Linked DNA regions of Homo sapiens: region 1 is linked to region 2. The links come from fine-mapping of genetic effects on plasma protein levels. A gene starts in region 2. The other region holds a variant in brackets. All regions are shown on one strand. Distances are from middle to middle.

Region 1 (9,647 bases), 1.2 Mb before region 2:
TTTCCATGTCACTCCTTATTCCAGATGTGCCATATCGTATACAAAGGGATATAAAACCACTTTAAAATCCCATCTCACTTTTTATGTGGCTTTTTGAGGAGTGAGGTGGCAAAGCTCTGCCTGGAAGGGAAGAAGTTGACCAGGCATGACTTCGAGCCCTCAGGCGGCTCAGCCTCTTTAGAAAGACAAGTGGCAGGGATACAATCACTCCCACAGGCTGAGATGTTAGGGGGAAGAAGAGATGCCCTCTCTTCTCCCTCCTTTGTATCCAGCAGAACTCCACAGAGCCATTAAGCACTGGCATTATACTGGGCCTCCAGAGCTCAAGGTTCCCTTCACATTGCAAACAAATTCACTTTGGCCACTTTTCAGCAGGAGAGCAGACCAATTAGCACTCAAGACCAGAACTCGATTCAGGGTGCTGAGTTGGAGAAGAGAAGACCGTCAATGCTGTGATTTCTCTCCCACTGCCCACGCCCACCATCAGGCAAACCTGGAGCAGCACTCTCAGGTGAGATCCTCAGCATCACCAGAATATAGGAGGTTCAGGGGCCAAAGTTAAGGGAATAAGCAAGGGGTACTCAGGATTTGCAATGCAAAGTTATTACCATCCCTAGGCTGCAAGAATAATCGGAGTATGTATTATTGGAGAAGGGTCCTACAGGTGAGAGCTGTAGTCACAATGGGAGGAAGCTATTGCCAGAAACAGGACACCAAGGGGGAGTGGGGAAGAAACACTCTGACCTCTCCCTACTCCTTCCTTCCAATCACCAGCTGGAAGCTCCCACGGGCCAATCCCAATTTGGAGACAATAGCAAGGGAGCCAGTTGATGGGATCTATGGAGGTTGACTTTATAAGGTACAGAGAAGGACAGAGAGTATATGAAGGGGATAAAGCTTTGCAAACATAATAATAACATAAGGGAGAGGATGTGGAGGAAGAAGAAGAGGAAAAAGAGAAAACAGTTACCAGCACAAATCCTTCTCAATGGATATGCACTTCCCAGAGCATAGGCTGTGAAAGAATGGATCCATCATATATCATTCCAGTAGGACCCAAAGACCAATGGAAAAGAATTCATGTTCATATAAGAAAAGTTAGATTTTGAAGTCACAATACCTCCATCTTTTTGCTCTTTGCCCCCTAAAGCAATAACAATGGCTTTGGCTCCTTTCCTTCTGCAGGCATTGTGGTCAACTCTTTATGTGCCATATCCTTTTCATTCACGCAACAACTCTGCAACCTAGATATTATAATCCCCATTGTAAAGACTAGGTAACTGAGATTCAGATGAAGTCAAGCCAATATCCTGATGAGATAAGTTTTAAGTTCCAGTCCCTATTAACAATTATTATTCTGAGAATTGCCTGTGAATGGACCCCAAATATCCTTAGCCAAGCTGAGAATCATTTTTAATTCAGATCCCAGAGCCAGCTCCCAGCCTTTCTGTTCATCCTTGACACACGTATCTGCTTTTGACTCTTTTATAGACATTTCACTTTTCTTAATTGGAGCTTTATTTTTCTTCACAGATTGTTTTTGCTTTATGTTTAGTGTCAGTACCTGCCACTAGCCTGCATTTTTCGTAAGAGTGGGGGCCATGGTTCTCCTTGCACATCGTGTGGGGGCATACAGCAGGAGCTCAGCAAGCATGCATTGAATGAATGTGCCCAGTGAGCAGGGCTGAGGCCACCCAATTCTCCCCACGTCTAGCTCAGAGAAGAACCCAATAAGTATTCAGAAAATATCAAATTATGTGTCCCCCATGTTCCATTCCCTGCTGTGGTTCCTGTGTCTCTATAAATCCTACCATTCTTTAAGGCCAACTTCAACTTTTCTCTTCCCTAGAAAGCTGTTCATAGGCATTGCAGCATAATGATGAGGAGCCCAGCCTTAATATTAAAAAAGCAAGGGTTGGAATCTGACTTCATCACTTATTAGTTGTGTGACCTTAGCAAAGTTACTAAGTAACTCTCTCAGTCTCAATTATGACATCCATAAAATGGAGTAATGTGTGTTCCCATCATGCAAGGTGATGACATGTGGAAAGTATTTACAACAGTATCTCGGGTAGAGTACATGCTCATTTAAGGCAAGTTGCTGTTATGCTAACACTCAGTGAATTGCCTGAATTATTATTATTTAGCATCATCTTGTTTTCTATTGCAGCATATGTTTATTTTGTGTATCCCAGCAAGCATATGGGCTCCTCCTAGGTGAATCCTTGACATACCTTATGATCTCCTGTATTCCTAAGGGCCACATAAATTCTTGTGACATTAGAGCAGGTATTCAACAAATACATTAGTGCTGCATGAGGTTTTATTTATTATTTTCCTTTGGTTCGCTAGGGAATTTATGAAATGTATGAAAAAATAAATAAAAATAATTGTTTATAATTTCCACCACTACTCAGAATGATCTAGGTTCTTCCTTCACATACTCTTCACCCAAATACATGTGAATTATATAGTTTACATATATTACATACATAGGCTCTTTCCTCAAGTATATATGAGATTATACAGTATAAACAACCTCATGCTCTGTATTTTTCACACATTTACGGTATGTTTCCCCCATAACATCATAAACTATAATAAGCATCATTTTAAGTGACTCTATTATATAACACAACAATTTGGCACAATTTATTTAACTGGTCCCCTATGGTTGGACACTTAGGTTGTTTCCAACTTCCTGTTATTATGAATAATATTATAACTAATAGATTTGTGCATAAAATGTTTCTGCATCTTAGATAATAATAGCTGTAATAGTGAGTGTTCTACTAGAATATAAATTATACCATTTTTTACCCCATTTACTGTTCTTCCTTTTATATTCTTCTAATAGACCCTCTGCTTCTCTATAGCACTAACCACACTCATTATTATTTGTTTAAGCTCTTTCTTCCTTGATGGCTCAATGACAGGAGATATTCCCCATATCTGGCACAATGACTTGTTCAGTAAACATTTTTCGATGAACGAATAATAAATTGGACAGATCAAAGTTAGAATTTGGATTGCTGCACTTTCCATCTGTGTACATTTGAACAAGTCCCATAACCTATCTCTCATAGATGTAGAGGCTCAGAAAGCTTAAGTGATACGTCCAGTGTCACACAGCTGGTGAGCACTGGAGCATGGACTTGCACCCACATACTCTGATTCAAAGCCCAGTTCTTCCCACCCTAATGCTATCCTCTTGGCTGTCTCTGTGCACATTCAAGCCTTCTCTCCTCGCATCCTTAAATGACACTCACATCTCAGTATGTGACACCTAAGCCATTCCATGAGGCATACAATGGGCTGCCAGCTGGAGGGGATGACAGTGAGCTCTCCACAACACAGTGGAGCTCTGCAAAACTTTTAGCCAATGGCACAATTTGACTTCAAGGTCTTGAGGCTGTTGATGCCGCTGCTCAAACCAGGGAAAGACAGAATCAAGAGCGTGTCAGGTGATTAACCAAAAATACCAGCTTGATGGCAGAGCCTCTATCTGGAGTAGTCTGATTTCTGGATGAATCTGAGACCAGTGTTGACCCTTTCCTCACCAAATAACTTGTTGTCTCATTGTCCTGTAAGATTCTGAAAGAACTCTGCTGCTTTTAGGCCCATTCCGACTTAGGAGGGGCACCCAAGCCTGCACCCTCTTTCACTCACACATATCTGAGGCATTGGAGAGGTTCAGACATGAAGGAGCACTTGGATTAGTCTGAATTATCTGTTAAGACTTTTTTATTATACTTGAATTCATTTATTAGCATAATCAATACAAATTTCACTCTCAGATCCTAAGCATGCAGGAAATACAGTTACTTGGTTTTTCTAAATGCAAATTCATTCTAATTCTTAACCCCAATCCTGCGAGAATGTGGGAAATTTGACCTTACACATTATAGAGTCTTTCTCCTCTAAAGATAAATTAATTGTTTTTGCAACACAGAATCTCCTGCAGGAGCTCTCTTGGCTTTGGGTTTGTTCTATGTTTCTGTTCTGTTGTCTGAGGCTGGGACACCTGGCACTGAGAATACAGCCTCTGGGTGCTCTGTGAAACCCTGTCCCACCCCTGGGTACAATAGGGGCTGAGGCACATAATCCCGCTAAATCTGGTCCTGAAGCCCAAAACCACTATGCTGCTCTGTCTTGGGAAATTTATTCCTTTTTTGTCTCCTTCCCACCCCAAAAAGGTACTCACCCCCTAAGCTAGATATTTTCCATTTCCCCTCCAGAGCTACGCATACCACCTACTCAGTATTTGGAGACTAACCTTTAAGTTCCACATCAACCAACTCTCTTGCCTCCTGGCCTTGATTTGGGTTTGGTTAATGGGGTTACGAGTTCAGCCAATGGAAGGTGCCATATTGGAAGGTAGGAATAGAGTGAAGTAGGTGTTTTATTTCCTCAGATTCTCTCCTGTCCGGTCATCACAGATTGGGCTTCTCCCTCTACCAGGGGCCACAGCTCTTATCTGGTGGCTGGTTCTGGTTTTAGTAATCACTTCCGTACCTTGCAGATCTAGAGCTGGTAAAGGCTCCTCTCTGTTCCTAGCCATGGAGTGCTGCACCATTCTTTGTTTCTTTTAACCTTTCCCACAATTTTGTAAATTGCTCCCTCATTAAATGCATTCAGCTAGCCCATGTGCGTGTGCTGTTTTCTGTTGGGACCCTCACTAATGCTCCCTTTTCTCCTCTCCCTGGCACAATCACATCAAAGAGTTATAGTTTGTGAAACAGAAGTCGTAAACACCAAGTGCATGTGTTTTTGACATGGAATGGGGAATGGGTTGGGAGAGTACTTCCAGGCATCTTCCCATCTTATCCAACAACAAAGAGAATCAAAGCATACAGAGTTCTGGTTACCTTCTTCTTAGAGCTGGAGGAGGGGAGAATTCAATGAAAACAAAACACAACGCATATTGACACCTCGGTTATACTTTATCATCATAAACGTGGCCAAGAAAAATCAAGGAATAAAAAACTGATACTCATAGAAGTATTCAAACTATATATTATTTGTTTTGTTTTGTTTGCTTTTGGGGTTTTGTTTTTTTTGTTTGTTTTTTTTTTTTTTTGACGAAGTCTCACTCTGTCGCCCAGGCTAGCGTGCAGTGGAACGATCTCAGCTCACTGCAGCCTCTGCCTCCCAGGTTCAAGTAATTCTCGTGCCTCAGTCTCCCGAGTAGCTGGGATTATAGGTGTGAGCCACCATGCCTGGCTAATTTTTGTATTTTTGTAGAGATGGGGTTTCACCATGTTGGCCAGACTGGAAGGACTCAAACTCCTGACCTCAGGTGATCCACCCACCTCAGCCTCTCAAAGTGCTGGGATTACAGGCCTGAGCCACTGCGCCTAGCCATATTCTTTGTTTTAATATTCAATGCTGAATTTTGAATAAAAACTGTAGTTTTTTTGAAATATCTATAAATGTGTTTAAATTTATGAGGTACCTGTGTGATTTTGCTACATGTATAGGCTGCATAGCAACCAACTCAGGACTTTTGTGGTATCTATCACTCAAATAATGTACATTATACTATTAAGTAATTTCTCA[C/A]CATCCTCTCCCTTCACACCCCCTCACCCTTCCAAGTCTCTGTTACCTATCATTCCACCTCTATGGTCATGTGAACAGATTTTTTAATAACCAGTGAAAACTGAGAACATGTAATATTTTTCTTTATGGGCCTGGGTTGCTTCACTTAAGATAATGACCACCAGTTCCATCCATGTTGTGGCAAAAGATGATTTTATTCTTTTTTATGGCTGACTAGTATTCTGTTATGTATATTTACCACATTTTTTAATCCATCTGTCTGTTGATGGACACTTAGTTTGATTCCATATCTTTGCTATTGTGAATAGTGCTATGATAAACATACAAGTACAGGTACCTTTTTGATATATTGATTTATTTTCCTTGGGTAGATACCCAGGAGTGGAATTGCTGGATCAATGGTAGTCCTCTTTTAGTTTTTTGAGAAATCTCCATACTGTTTTCCTTAGAGGCTGCACTAATTTACATTCCCACCAACAGTATATAAGAGTTCCCTTTTCCGCACATCCTTGCTAACATTTCTTTTTAAATCTTTTTAATAATAGCCATTCTGGAGTAGGATGATACATCATTATGGTTTCAATTTGCATTTTTCTGATGATTAGTGATGTTGAGCATTTTTTCATATGTCTGTTGATTGTTTACATATCTTCTTTTGAAAAATGTTCTTTGCCCACTTTTTAATAGGATATTTGGGGTTTTGTTGTTACTGTTGTTGAGTTGTTTGAGTTTCTTTTATATTTTGGTGATTGGTTTCCTCTTTGACACAAATCCTCTTCATCTCAGTGTCCACTTTGCAAACCCATGCAGCAAATTGAACTTGCATTCCCTTGATCTCCTAAGTTCAACATCTTCCATTCCCCACCCCACACCAGTCATCCTCCACAGGGCCATGACTATATGCAACCATCCCTCAGAACTACTTCACCTCTGATAGCACGTTTTGAAATCCCATGTTCTGGCTGTTACTTCCTTCTGCACTCTACCTTTTATCATTTTGCCTCCATTGACCCTGCACGCTTTCTCATTATTGCATCATTAAACCTATATTAAAGTGCTCTCATTCTCCATCCACTTCATGAAAGTCCAGGAGACTCCTGGTGAACCATATCAAGAGCACTGTAAGTGTCTCCTTACCTTCTAGTCCTTCTACCTTCCCCTCTTAACAAAACCCATTGACCATGCTCGGACTCAATATTTGGCCCAACAGACCTGCAGGAGAAAGTTATAACTATACACCTACTAGATTCACTGCAATGTCCTGATGTTCCTCTCAGGCCTTCACAGATGCTAAGTCATTCCTGCATTCAGCTCCCGTTGCTTACTCTGTGCTATCTGTCTCTCCTTTCCTCAAGCCTACAAACTAAAAATGCCAATAGATTTTATATCCTATTCTACATCCAAACAATTGAGAACAGCTATTCAGATCACTGTTTTAGAAGGATTGTGAGAAAAAGAGTACAAGAATTGATTAGTCGTATCTGCCACAGGCATGGGTAAGAAAGGGTGTGTGTGAGCCACTCATTCACACCATCTTGGTCCCAAACCTGCAACACTCACATTCTAAGGAGCTGCTCAGCATTCTGAGAAGACTTACACCAGATGGGGTTAGTACCTTCAATGTGTTCTCCCCATCAAAATCTCTCCCCTTCCTTATTTCTCTCCCATATCTGAGAAAATTAACATCCTTACTGAAGGCTAAGGTTAACCAATGTTCTGTACTTTTGATCTCCCTGGGATGATGTACATAGACTGATGAAGGAGTGGCACCAGCAGTGGCTGATGAAGGAGGCAGAAATATTATGGCCATTGTAAGCTGGTTTTCTCTAGGGCTCAGCAGAAAATGGGTACAAAGTAGATTATGTTCTGGGGCAGCATTTTTTTTTTTGTCTCTGAACATTGTCATCCCCTCCTCCCAAGAAAGATTGACTCTAGCAATCCCAGCTCTTAATGACAAGCAACAGAAACTGCCTCTGATTTAGGCAGAAAAGAAAATTTGTTGAAAGGATGGCTCAGAGAATTGCTAGGAATTTGGGATCACCTGGCCCAGAAAACAAACAGGAAGATATATTTGTTTTTTGTACCTGATTTAACAAATTATCACAAACTCTGTGGATCAAAAACAGAAATGTATTCTCTCATAGTTCTGGAGGCCAGAAATTCAAAATTGGGGTGTGTTGCAGAGCCATATTCTCTCCAAATGTTTTAGGGAAGAATTCTTCCCTGGCCTCTTCCAACTTCTGGTGGCTCCAGGCCTTCTTTGGCTTGTGGCCATATCCTGCCTCCTGGCCACATTGCCTTCTCCTCTGTCTATCTCTCTCAAAACACCCTCTGCCTGTCTCTTACAAGGAAGCATGAGATTGCATTTAGGGGCCACATGGATAATGTAGGATAAACTCCTCCTCTCAAGATCCTTCACTTTATCAGATATTTTACCATATAAGGAAACAGCCACAATCTTTGGAGGCCCATTTTTCAGTTCATCACACAGCCATACTCCATCTGTACCAAACATGAAGGCCCATGGTACTACCACCGCTGCTCATGGGAATGGGTGTTTCTGCCACCGCCCTTGCTATCATCACCCACTCTGAAGGAGTTTCTCCACTGTCACTGCTTCTTTGCTTCTATAGCTTCCAAAGTCCTGGAGCAGTATTTCTGATTGGCTGAGCATAGATGATACAACCATAGGGACTAACCTCAAAGAAAGAAGGGACAGTGGGTACCTGTGCCTTGCTTTGTGGCTCTGTGGTCAGAGGTAGGCAGGGCCTTTCCTGAAGTCTCATACAGTGGGCAATTTCTCCAACATCAGAAGAGGTTCATGTACTAGACATGGGAAACAGCAAGCTTCCACTAGACTTTCCCAGATCTTTCTCCAGGTATGCATGAGGTTCTTGAATGATTTCACAAGCTGATTTCTCCCATTCTTTTGTGCTGATGGCACTTCAGAATCTCATGATTTTGCATGAGGGTACCATCTTGCCACAATCACGCTGGCCACCGTCCACTCAAAGAGTGCTGGAATCGATTAGACATTTGACTTCTGAAGATCCCAAAACCACAAACACATGATACCAATGCATCCGAGAAGTCTTAGATGTCCTTACAGCCAAGCTATTCTATAAGCAAGAGGAGGACTGTCTTAGTCTGTTTGGGCTGTTATAATAGAACACCATACACTGGGGTGCTTATGAACAAGAGAAATTTATTTCTTACAATTCTAGAGGCTAGGAACTCCCAGATCAAGGCACTTGCAGATTCCGTGTTTTGTAAGAACATGCCTCCTGGTTCATAGATTGTCTCTTCTCACTGTGTTCTCACATGGTAGAAGAGCAAATGAGCTCTCTGGGATCTCTTTTATAAGGGCACTAATCCCATTCAAGAGGGTTCCACCTTCATTACCTAATCACCTCCTAACTCCATCACATTAGGGATTAAGTCTCCACATATGAATTTTGATGGGACACATACATTCAGCTGACAGCAGGGATGAATGCCTCTCTCTTCCCCTCTGAGTAACAGTGTTCCCTGAGCCCTACACCACCAGGACTGTGCCCTGGTTTCTATGGAACTGCGGCTCTTTCTGCTCTTTAACCTGAGTCCCTTCTTTCCCCGTTCTCCACAATGCTCAGAAATGAATCCATGGGCCTGACCCAGGGAGTCACTCTCTGTGAAATCGCTAAACTATTCAATCCCTCTTCAATACAGCTGTGTGTGCAAGCATTTTCCTCTTTCTTATTTAGACAAAAGCCCTCCTACAAAAGACATGTCTTCACTCCTGACAGTCCTGCTACACATATAATTCTAAAACAGGGTAAAACTAAACACAGGCCAAATAAAAGTATAAGCCAAAGGCTATGAAAGCACAAAGAAAAGGCATGCCTTGCAAGGCATCACAGAGGGTGCAGAATGGAAATTGCCTTTAGAATGTGATGGCTACCCGTGTGTGCTCATGCCAAAACACATGCGTATGCACCCTTTTATCTCAGGCTCAGATGCCAACACATCCCACATCGGGAAGACTAGGCTCCAGGTTCCATCTGACCCTTCACTCCATTTCTCACCAGGCATCAAAGGAGTTATATTTT
Region 2 (9,570 bases):
TGCCTGGCCTGCCCATTCTTTAAAATTGAGGAATAATATACATAAAGTACCTAACGGGCACAAATTTTAAAGGTATTGCTAAATAATTTTTAATGTTTATACAGGAATGTGATCACCACCTGGATCAAGATATGGCAACTTCCAGCACCCCGGCAGACCTCCCTCATGCCCTTCAGGGTCTCTGCCTGCCTCTAGAGGTGACCACAATTCTGACTTCCAGTTCAGAGGCATGTGTTTCCAAACTTTACGCAGAATTTTCCCAGCTGAGTGGTTCCCATCATCAGAGGTGGTGGCTGGTTTAATTGCACACTCTCTCCTGGCTGCCCTCCCTTCCTCATCTCAGTACCGATTCCCTACAGTGTTTCCTGGAATCATTTCCCAAATCAACTACTTGCACGCAAAGCTGTGTTCTGTTGGCTGGTGGAGGACCTCACTACCACAAATAACATGCCCAGGGCACTCAGCTGGTGGGCAGTAAGGCCAGAATAGGAGCCAGAGCCACCTGACCCAGAAGGTGGCACTGCCCCAGGGAGAGGGTCCGGTCTGTGTCCCCACTCCCTGTCCCCACTGTACCCAGAGCAGCCTGGAGCGTGGGTTTGCCAAGTCCAGCCAGCAGATGTGGCTTCTTACCATACTGCAGTCCCTTGTCGGTGATCCTGGCGACCAAGCCGGGGTTGGCACCCAGAGCCTCTGGGGTGGACGTAAGCAGCAATGCCAGCAGTATGGACGGCAGGGCTCTGGCCAAGGCCCCCATCCTAGATTCCCAGTGCAGTGGGCCAGGACTGTCCCAGCTGTGGATTGGGCCCAGGTCCCTTAAGTAGCCAAGGCTCGATGGCTGGGGGCAGTTCCTGAGGCTGGATGGGTTCCTGGGAGCGGGAAGGGGAGGCACAGGGACTGGAACCTGCTTGCGACATCACTGAAGTCATAAGGTCATACTTAGAAGCCAGTTTTCACTGCCCAGATCAGTGGATGAGGAAGCCTGACTCCTATGATCATCCCTGTCCACCCTCCCCACAGAAAGACCCCATATTCATCACTGTTCATCTTGCCTCATCTCAGCCAGTCTCTTAAGAGCTCGGCTAGGAAGGCCTGGTTTAGCAGATGAGGAAACTGAGGTTCAAAAAAGCCACATAGCTCCCTTGAGATCTCACCCCCAGCAGAGGGCAGGGTTGAGAGTGAAGCTACATCTGGCACCAACCAAACTCTCTTTTTTAAAATATATTGGCTCGTTTATTTAAAAAATAAATGTTTCCCCCAATGGGAAAACAGTGTTTCTCAAACCTTGCTGGTGGTGAAATTTTCTGGAAGGCAATTGGCAAATGTTTAAACAGTTGCATGCCCTGTGACCCAGGAATTCAATTTCAGGGACTTGCCCTTAAATACATAATTGAGTCAGTGTGCCAGTAAATCACTGCTCCAAGATACCACTGCTATGCTGTGGGAAACAGGACAGGAGAAGTGAGACCCAACCTCATGTATCCACCAGAAGGGCATTGGTTAAATGAATTATGACATGCCCCTTAAAGTGAGGCTGCAGAAATAAAGGTATTTCTTGGCAAGGAAAGGGATGTCATGAGGCATCCGTTTCCGATGGCACCATAGAGTAAGGTTCTATTTTGGGGGGTTCAAAATAGGCTTCTATGTTCAACAATCTGGAAAATATTTAGCAAGGAGTCATGAGGCATTGTCTCTGGTTGTGGGGGTAGAATTATAAGTGTTAAAAAAGTTTTTGCTTGTTGATACGTACAATTTTTTTTTCTTTTTTCATTTTTTGAGACAAAGTCTACTCTGTTGCTCAAGCAGGAGTCCAGTGGCATGAACATCGCTCGCTGCAACCTCAACTTCCTGGGCTCAAGTGATCCTCCCACCACAGCCCCCTAAGTAGCTGGGACTACAGGTGTGAGCCACCATGTCCAGCTAATTTTTTGTATTTTAGTAGGGACGAGGTCTTGCTATGTTGCCCAGGCTGGTGTCGAACTCCTGAGCTCAAGTAAGCCTCCCGCTTGGCCTTCCAAAATACTGGGATTATAGACTTGGGCCACCATGCCCAGCCTCTAAAATTTTTATTTTCTTGGGGGTATGGTCCCGGGCATATATTCGCAGTAAGTAAAGATAGTAAAATTTCATTCTGGAAAACAAAATTTATAGTACAGACTGTGTTTAATTTTTAGAGTTTTGCCCCAGCCCTGCTTACATTTGTGAGTTCTGCTTTGCCCTCACCCCCAGGAAGCCTTCCCTGACCACTCCCATGCTTCTCTGGATTCTAGAAAGGGTCCCCTCTGAGGTCCCAGAACCCTTTGCGCTTTCCCCACCACAGCATTAACCACTCTGCTTTTTGATAATTGTGGTCCTTTAAAAATATGCCCACGAATTCTTTGATATTCCTTCCATCAAAAGGTAATGTTTCTGCCCCCTTCCCTTGAAATTGGGCAGGTTTTCATGATGGCCTCAACCAACTGAATGTGGTGGGATTAACAGGGTGACTCCCAATAGGTCACAAACAGCACTGGCAGGCACTGAGGTTAAGATCAGAATGTCCCACGTTAAGCACAGGGAACCCCACAGTCCAGGCCTCTCTGCTCCTCTGTACCGTGTTGCTCCTGTCACTGGGGCTGAGGTTTGTTGGGATCCTCATCCGTCCCTCCCCTCAGTCCCCACACCACCAGTCTGATGGCTCCTTGCAGGCACGGCTGAGTCTTCCATTTCCTGAGATCCTTGCAGCACCCAGCAGAAATTGGAAAGAAACTGATATTTATTGAGCACCTACTATGTGCAGGCGCTGTGCTGGTTAAGCTGCACGTCTCCTCTCATCCTTGCATCAGCAACCCCAGGTGGATATTTTAGTCTTGTCTTGAGATGAAGAAACTGAGGTTTGGCAGGGTGAAGTGATGTAGGCTGCAGTCACCCAGCAGGAATTTAAGTCCAGGTCTGCAGGATGCCATTCCAAAACTCTGGTCAGGGCAGGGTTCTCTTGGGAGGCAACAAGCTGAGCAGAGGCCTCAGGGTAAGGAGCCAGCCTTTGGGAGGCTTTGGAGCAGGAAAGGGCTCACAGGTGCATCCCCAGTGTGCCTAGGGGCCTTTGCTTCCTGGACCTCAGCCTGCCCAGGAGGGGAGGAGAGTGGGGGAGGACATTCTGGAGCATAAGGATCTTATGGGGACATAGATGTCACTCTTCCTCTGGCAGCAGTTTAAGGATGTCCCTGGCTGGGAGTCATTTGCAGGGGTGGGAATTTCCCACAGCAGCAATCTTTGGACCTTAGAGCTGCCACATGGCCCAGGCCTGGCCTCCACCCCTGCAGGTGCCCACTGCTGGCTAAGGTCCCTGCTGATGGCCCAGGACCCAGCAGAGGCCTCAGGGAGCAGCACGACCCCACTGCTGGTCAGAACCCCTGGGCCTTTCTCCTACCAGGCTGTCCATCCAATTCCACAAAAGCAACAGCTGCTACCACTCTGGCCACCACTCAGTCTTATTGCAGTGAAATAGGGACTCTTTTAACAAGGCTGTTTATTGTGTTCTTGTGCAGGAGAGGGCCCCCAGAAATGGCAGTGCATCAAATGATGGACAGGCGATCATAAAACTGTCCCTCTGACATGATAAGTGGCCACGAATGGCGCCAAGAGGGAGAGGAGTTCCCTAACAGATAGTTGACATCATCTGGAGCCAGCAAACCACAATTCCCTGGTAAGGTCGAGCAGAAGGGCAAATGTTGGAGTCTGACTTGTATATGACCTTTTTCTTGCGGCGACGGACCAGTAAGGGAAAATCACCCCAAGTGAGCATGCGCACAACCTTAGTAAACACACTGCGCATGCGGCCCCTCCCAAGTGCTGGCAGGCCATTGCGCATGCAGGGAGGGCGCAGCAGCCCACCGAAGGGAGGAATCAAGGAGGAGAAGAAACCCCAGAACCAAGCCAGTGTATAAAAGCCCCGAGCCAAAGGTTGAGCGGGGCACTTGATCTCTCAGTTGTACTTTGCTTCTTTCAATAAACCTTTGCCTCTGCTTTAAAACTTGCCTGCGTCTCTCAATTGAATTCTTTCCTCTGAGAAGACAAGGGCTGGGAGTGTTGCGGACTCGCCACCGATAATATTCTCACTACAAAAGTGTTACTGAAAAGATTTTGAAAAACCCAGAATTTGGAATCCATAGTGTCTAGAATACTGAGCAGCAAATAGTAGATAATTGCCAAAGGAATAAACAAACCTTATGTTTATCTTTATGGACTCTGGGGCCAGATGGCCTGGATTTGAATCCTGACTCCCCCACGGGGTGACTTTGGGCACTTTGTGACTCAGTTTCCTCATCTCTACTTGGGTTCAGCCAGAGGGTGGCATGGCAGGAGGTCAGATGTCAGGGCACTTTTCCCTGCTGTCTTCTCTAGATCACAAGTGTGGCAGTTGGCTGTGTCCCTCCTGATAAGGCCTTGTCCTTGGCTCCTATTATCTCCTTGGGCTGGGATACCCAGATGCTTTTCTTTGCTGCTTGAGCCTTAGGAAAAACAGTCCCTGGTTGGTTTCCTCAAGCTTGTCCCCCAACTCTAGAAATAGCCACTTTATTCAAATCCCAAGAACCAATGCAGTTGGATTCTCTTTTCTTGCCTGAACCCTGTTGGACACAATTAGCAACACTGAGCATTTCTTCTGCACTTATTCATCTTTTGTGCAAACGCCTGCCTCTCGCAGAGAGCTTTGAATCCTTTTCCAAAGTCTTACAGGTTTTTTGTCAAGGCCCTGCTCCTAATGGGCTGGGGGACCTGGAACAAACTCCACCCCTCTCTGTTCCTCATGTTTCCCCCAAATGCAGATGAGGGCTGGGGACTAGGACAGCTTTTCAGAAACAAAGACGTGCAGTCAAGTCCCCCAGGGATCTTGTTTAGATGCAAATCTTGATCCATCATGTTCCTCTTGGGGCTGAGCCTCTGCATTTTAACAAGCTCCCTGGTGAGGGTGATGCTGCTGACCACGGATTGTGCTTGGAGCTTCGGGAACAAGGGACTAAATGAGCTCCGAGTTCCCTCCAAGCTCAGCAGTTCTCTAATGCTTCACTCTCCTTTTCGATAGTTTTCTATGACGGTGCCCACACTCCTGAGAACACTGACTCTTGAAAGAGAATGATGTTATGAATTCCTGCAGTTCTGAATCTCTGCAGGGTACTTTGGAGTTGGGAGTTTAATATTTATGGCAGCCTCTCCCCAAGCCACATCACCTGCAGATCTGAATGTGTGCCTGTGTACGCACACGCACAGACACACACACATGAGCCCTGAGACATGCGGGCTTACAAAATAAAAGTAGTAACGTCAGTGACGATCCTTTGTGGCTTGAAGGTTGCGTGTCTTGAGATACCAGGAGCCCCCATGGAGCAGGGCTGGTCATGTGGATAAACAGCTCCTCACCCCAGAGAGCCCTTACTTTTACAGATGGGGAAACTGAGACCTAGAGAGGGAGAACTGGCCCAGGTTACACTGTGAGCCTATTGCTGAACTGGAGAGGATAAATCCAGAGTTCTGGCCAGCCAGGGGCTCTGATTCTTGGGGTCAGGCCCATTCAGGCAGACAGCCCTGGATCATACATTGAGAATCACTGGCATAAATGTTTTGAGTTATGCAGATGTGGGTTGAAATCCCAGATCATTTTTAAAATAAATACTTACTGATCACCAACTATGTGGCAGGCATTGGGAATACTACTGTAGCCAGATATAGTATTTTTTTTGTTTTTTTTTTTTTGAGACAGAGTCTCACTCCATCACCCAGGCTGGATGGAGTGCAGTGGTGTGATCTCAGCACACTGCAACCTCCGCCTTCTGGGTTCAAATGATACTCGTGCGTCAGCCTCCTGAGTAGCTGGGACTACAGGTGTGTGCCACCACGCCCGGCTAATTTTTGTGTTTTTAGTGGAGACTGGGTTTCGCCATGTTGCCCAGGCTGGTCTCGAACTCCTGGGCTCAAGTGATCCACCTGCCTCAGACTTCCAAAGTGCTGGGATTACAGGTCGTGAGCCACTGCACCTGGTCAGATATAGTCTTTACAGTATAGTAAGAAGAACTGCGTTTATTCAAATTAGAGCAAACTTGGATTACTGTTGTCAACCCCTGTACCACGGATTTGACATGTATTTGATTCTCATAACAACTTTATGAGGTAGGTACTATAATGATGTTCCCTTTATAGATGAGAAATAGAAAACCTGAGAATTAAGTATACTGCCCAAAGTCACACAGCTGGTAAATAGCAGACGTGGGATTTAAACCCAAGATATCTGGGATCATGGTTCATACTCTTAACCACTGTGCCATGACCCTATCAATCATACCTCTGATTCTTCCCAATAACCTCATGCCGAGAGGGCAAGATTTTAACTCTCCTTTTCAAAGGAGGAAATAGAGGGCCAGAGAGGTTAAGGAACATTTGCAAAGTCACACAGCTCTTGAGGGGGCCGGATTTATGTTTGAAACCACCGCCAGGTGACTCCAGAGCCCAGGCTCTGAACAGTTAGCTTAGCAGGCCACACGACTTTTCTAGAGACTCCTCATCTGAAAAACAAGGGCAACCTTGGCTACCTTTAGCGGTTGTCATGAGGATTAAATAGGATCATAAGCCTGAAGAGATAGACCCAGGGACAGGGCTGCTCATGGCCACTAGCGGGACATGGCAAAATGATGAAGACAGTGCTTAGTCTTCCTGTGCCCCTCCCCACCTTCTCTCCTTGCAGAGGGTACTCCTCCCTCATATTTATTTAATAAGTCAGCATTTCCAAAAGGAACCCCAGGAAGGCTGTGCTTATCCCAGAAGGGAAGCTGCTCTGATGGTGAGCTTTTAGGCAGTTTGGAGTGAACAATTCTTTTTTTTCTTCTTCAATTGTCTTTTGCCACTTTATTGACATATATTTCATATACATAAAATTCACCCATTTAAAGTGTACAATCCAGAATTTAATTTTAGAACATTTTCAACGTCACCCAAAGAAACCCCAAACACACATTTGCAGTCATCTGCAGCAGACAATGCTTAGCCTGAAGGGAGAAGCTGCTCAAATAGTGGTTCTGTAGCCAACTTGGCAGAACCTTTGGAGTGTGTTGGGGAATGCTGCTCAAACCCTAACCCCCAAGCAACTGCCTTTCCTCAGCCATTAGAGAGAAGTTCGCAGGCACAATGTGTTTCATGCACCAATCTTCAGGTCCAAGAAAGATTTAGGTTGATGGAAAAGTAATTATTTTTTTTGGCATTAAAAGTAACGGCCAAGACTGGATTCAGTGGCTCACACTTGTAATCCCAGCACTTTGGAAGGCCAAGGTGGGTGGATCACTTGAGGTCAGGAGTTGGAGACCACTCTGGCCAACATGGAGAAACCCTGTCTATATTTAAAAATATATGTACACAAAATATTAGCCGCGCGTACTGGTGTGAGACTGTAATCCCAGATACTTGGGAGGCTGAGGCAGGAGAACGGTTTGAATCCGGGAGGCAGAGGTTGCAGTGAGCCAAGATCACACCACTGCATTCCAGCCTGGGTGACAGAGCGAGACTCTGTCTCCAAAAAAAAAAAGTAATTGCGGTTTTTGCATTAAAAGTAATGGCAAAAACCGCAATTACTTTTGCACCAACCTAATAATTGCATTTTTTTTTTTTTTTCTATAGAGTGTGGAGCAGGGGGTGCCTATATGTTACAGAAAGTAGAGGGCAGGTGTAGAAGGGGGTTAACTCCAAAGAGAATGAGGGTGGGGGATGGCAGGTGTGTGTCCATATCTACCAGCTAGTCTCCCCAGCAGCCAGAGGGCTCTTTTACAAATGTGAATTGGATTGTAACATTCTTCTGCTCAAAACTCTCCAGTGGCTTGCCTTATCTTTTGGAACAAAACCTAGAGCCCTTAACAGTCCTCATGGCCTCCCAGTCTATCCCACGCTGTGCTTCCCTTCTCTCTCTTCCTTCCGCCCTTGCTAGCTGCTCTTCTGTTCTATTCAGGGCCTCCATAGCCCCTGGCTAGTGGAGAAAAAGATGCATACTACTGGTGGACAAATTAGAGAAAGACTTTTGTTTCCTCAACCTGGTACAACCTATGTTTTACAGTGTACAACCTATGCCACAGAACAAAGAAGTTCTGCTTTAAACGTGCCAAGTCCCCCAGAACAGACAACATTTTGACATCGGGGAGGAGCAAAAAAAGCATGGGCTCTGACATGTGGGAATAGATAAGGTGGGAATTCCAACTCTGCCACCTGCTGGCTATGTGATCAGGGAAGGGTAACTCAATTTAAAATGTTTGAACAGCTGGGCTCGGTGGCTCACCCCTGTAATCCCAGCGCTTTGGGAGACCCAGGCAGGTAGATGACCTGAGGTCAGGAGTTTGAGACCTGCCCGGCCAACATGATGAAACCTCATCTCTACTAAAAATACAAAAATTAGCCAGGCATGATGGCACATGCCTGTAGTCCCAGCTACTCAGGAGGCTGAGGCAGGAGAATCGCTTGAACTTGGGAGTCAGAGGTTGCAGTGAGCTGAGATCGTGCCACTGCACTCCAGCCTGGGTGACAGAGCAAGACTCTGTCTCAAAAACAAACAACCAAAAAAGTTTGAGCAATTGCCATCTTGGGGGATGAAGAATGCTATCAGGATTAAATTAGATCATTCATGCCCTTTGCTTGACTCCTGAGAGTGTTTGATCAATGGCCCTCCCTTCTTGTGTGGCCCTAGAGCCTTTAACTCCATTTGACAGAGAATCAATGATGTCAGCAGAAGTGTGTACATTTTTCTTTATAAATAAAATAAATACCTTTTATCTGCTTTTGCTCGCTACAAATGCTTCTCTTCAATTTTACCATCACCAATCTGGTTGAAGCTTGAATAACAACACATTCCTAATTTGTGCTCATCCCTTGCCCTCTTGTCCTTCTGATGCTTTCAGAAGTCACAATAAAACATTTTAAAAACTAAATCTGGTCATGTGGTCCCCCACTCCACCGTCTGCATCGAACTCCTCCAGTGTGTTGTTGCTCATCCTTATGGTCTCAGAGCACATGTCAGCAGTGTAGAAAGGCCTTCCAGGACTCCTCAATCAATCTGAAGTACAATCCATAAAACCCCATCTCATGGGCTGAGATAGCCCCCTCTGATGTCCCATGGCAGGAAATGGCCCAAAGCCCCCAAGGAAACTCCCCAGAATTCCAAAGACAGTCTGGGTTGGTGATCTGGCTTCCACACTAGAGCTGGGAGAGTCATGGGGAAGTGCTAATTGCACCCAAAGATGTGACTGAAGCAGAAAACCCCAATGGACTCTGTCACCTGGCCCATTGTTCTGCTTTTGGGGACAATGGCTGGGCAGGAGAACATGGATGAAACGGGGAGCCCAAGTGTGGGGCAGGGAAGGTGGGCTGTGCAGGCTAGCTTTTCAACAGCGACACCGTGTGGTAGTGACGGGAGCAACAGTCCTAGTGGACAGGTGACTACACAGGACAATGGGCTGTGCAGAATGACGGGTCAACAGCCACACCATGTGGTAGTGGAAAGAACAACAGCATAGTGGACTGACCCACTCTCCAGACCCTCTCTGTGTGACATTAGGAATTTGGACT

Alleles and levels. Positions count from the first base shown, and alleles are read on the strand shown. Strength reflects both the effect of a copy and how common the allele is.
In carriers of allele A in region 1, the plasma level of the protein whose gene starts at base 789 in region 2 tends to be lower than with C alone (weak association).

What was found. A credible set is the group of variants that fine-mapping cannot tell apart. PIP is the posterior inclusion probability: the model's chance that the variant is causal. The UK Biobank Pharma Proteomics Project read protein levels with antibody pairs (Olink). The fine-mapping took linkage between variants from a reference panel, not from the people measured, so its PIPs are less certain.
Region 1: its variant is the best candidate, but not a certain one, in a credible set for the plasma level of the LBP protein (UK Biobank, PIP 0.88).

What each region holds. Positions count from the first base shown.
Region 1 is chr20:39,492,178-39,501,824 of GRCh38, reverse strand. No RefSeq gene overlaps it. Among named protein-coding and RNA genes, the nearest start is that of LINC01734, 270 kb to the right of the region's middle. The variant C/A (reference allele first, on the strand shown) is at 5,560.
Region 2 is chr20:38,337,701-38,347,270 of GRCh38, reverse strand. LBP (lipopolysaccharide binding protein) reads right to left here and starts at 789. Exons shown (of 15, transcript NM_004139.5): 1 at 631-789. The coding sequence starts at 754. RefSeq lists enhancers at 2,736-3,513, 4,294-5,070.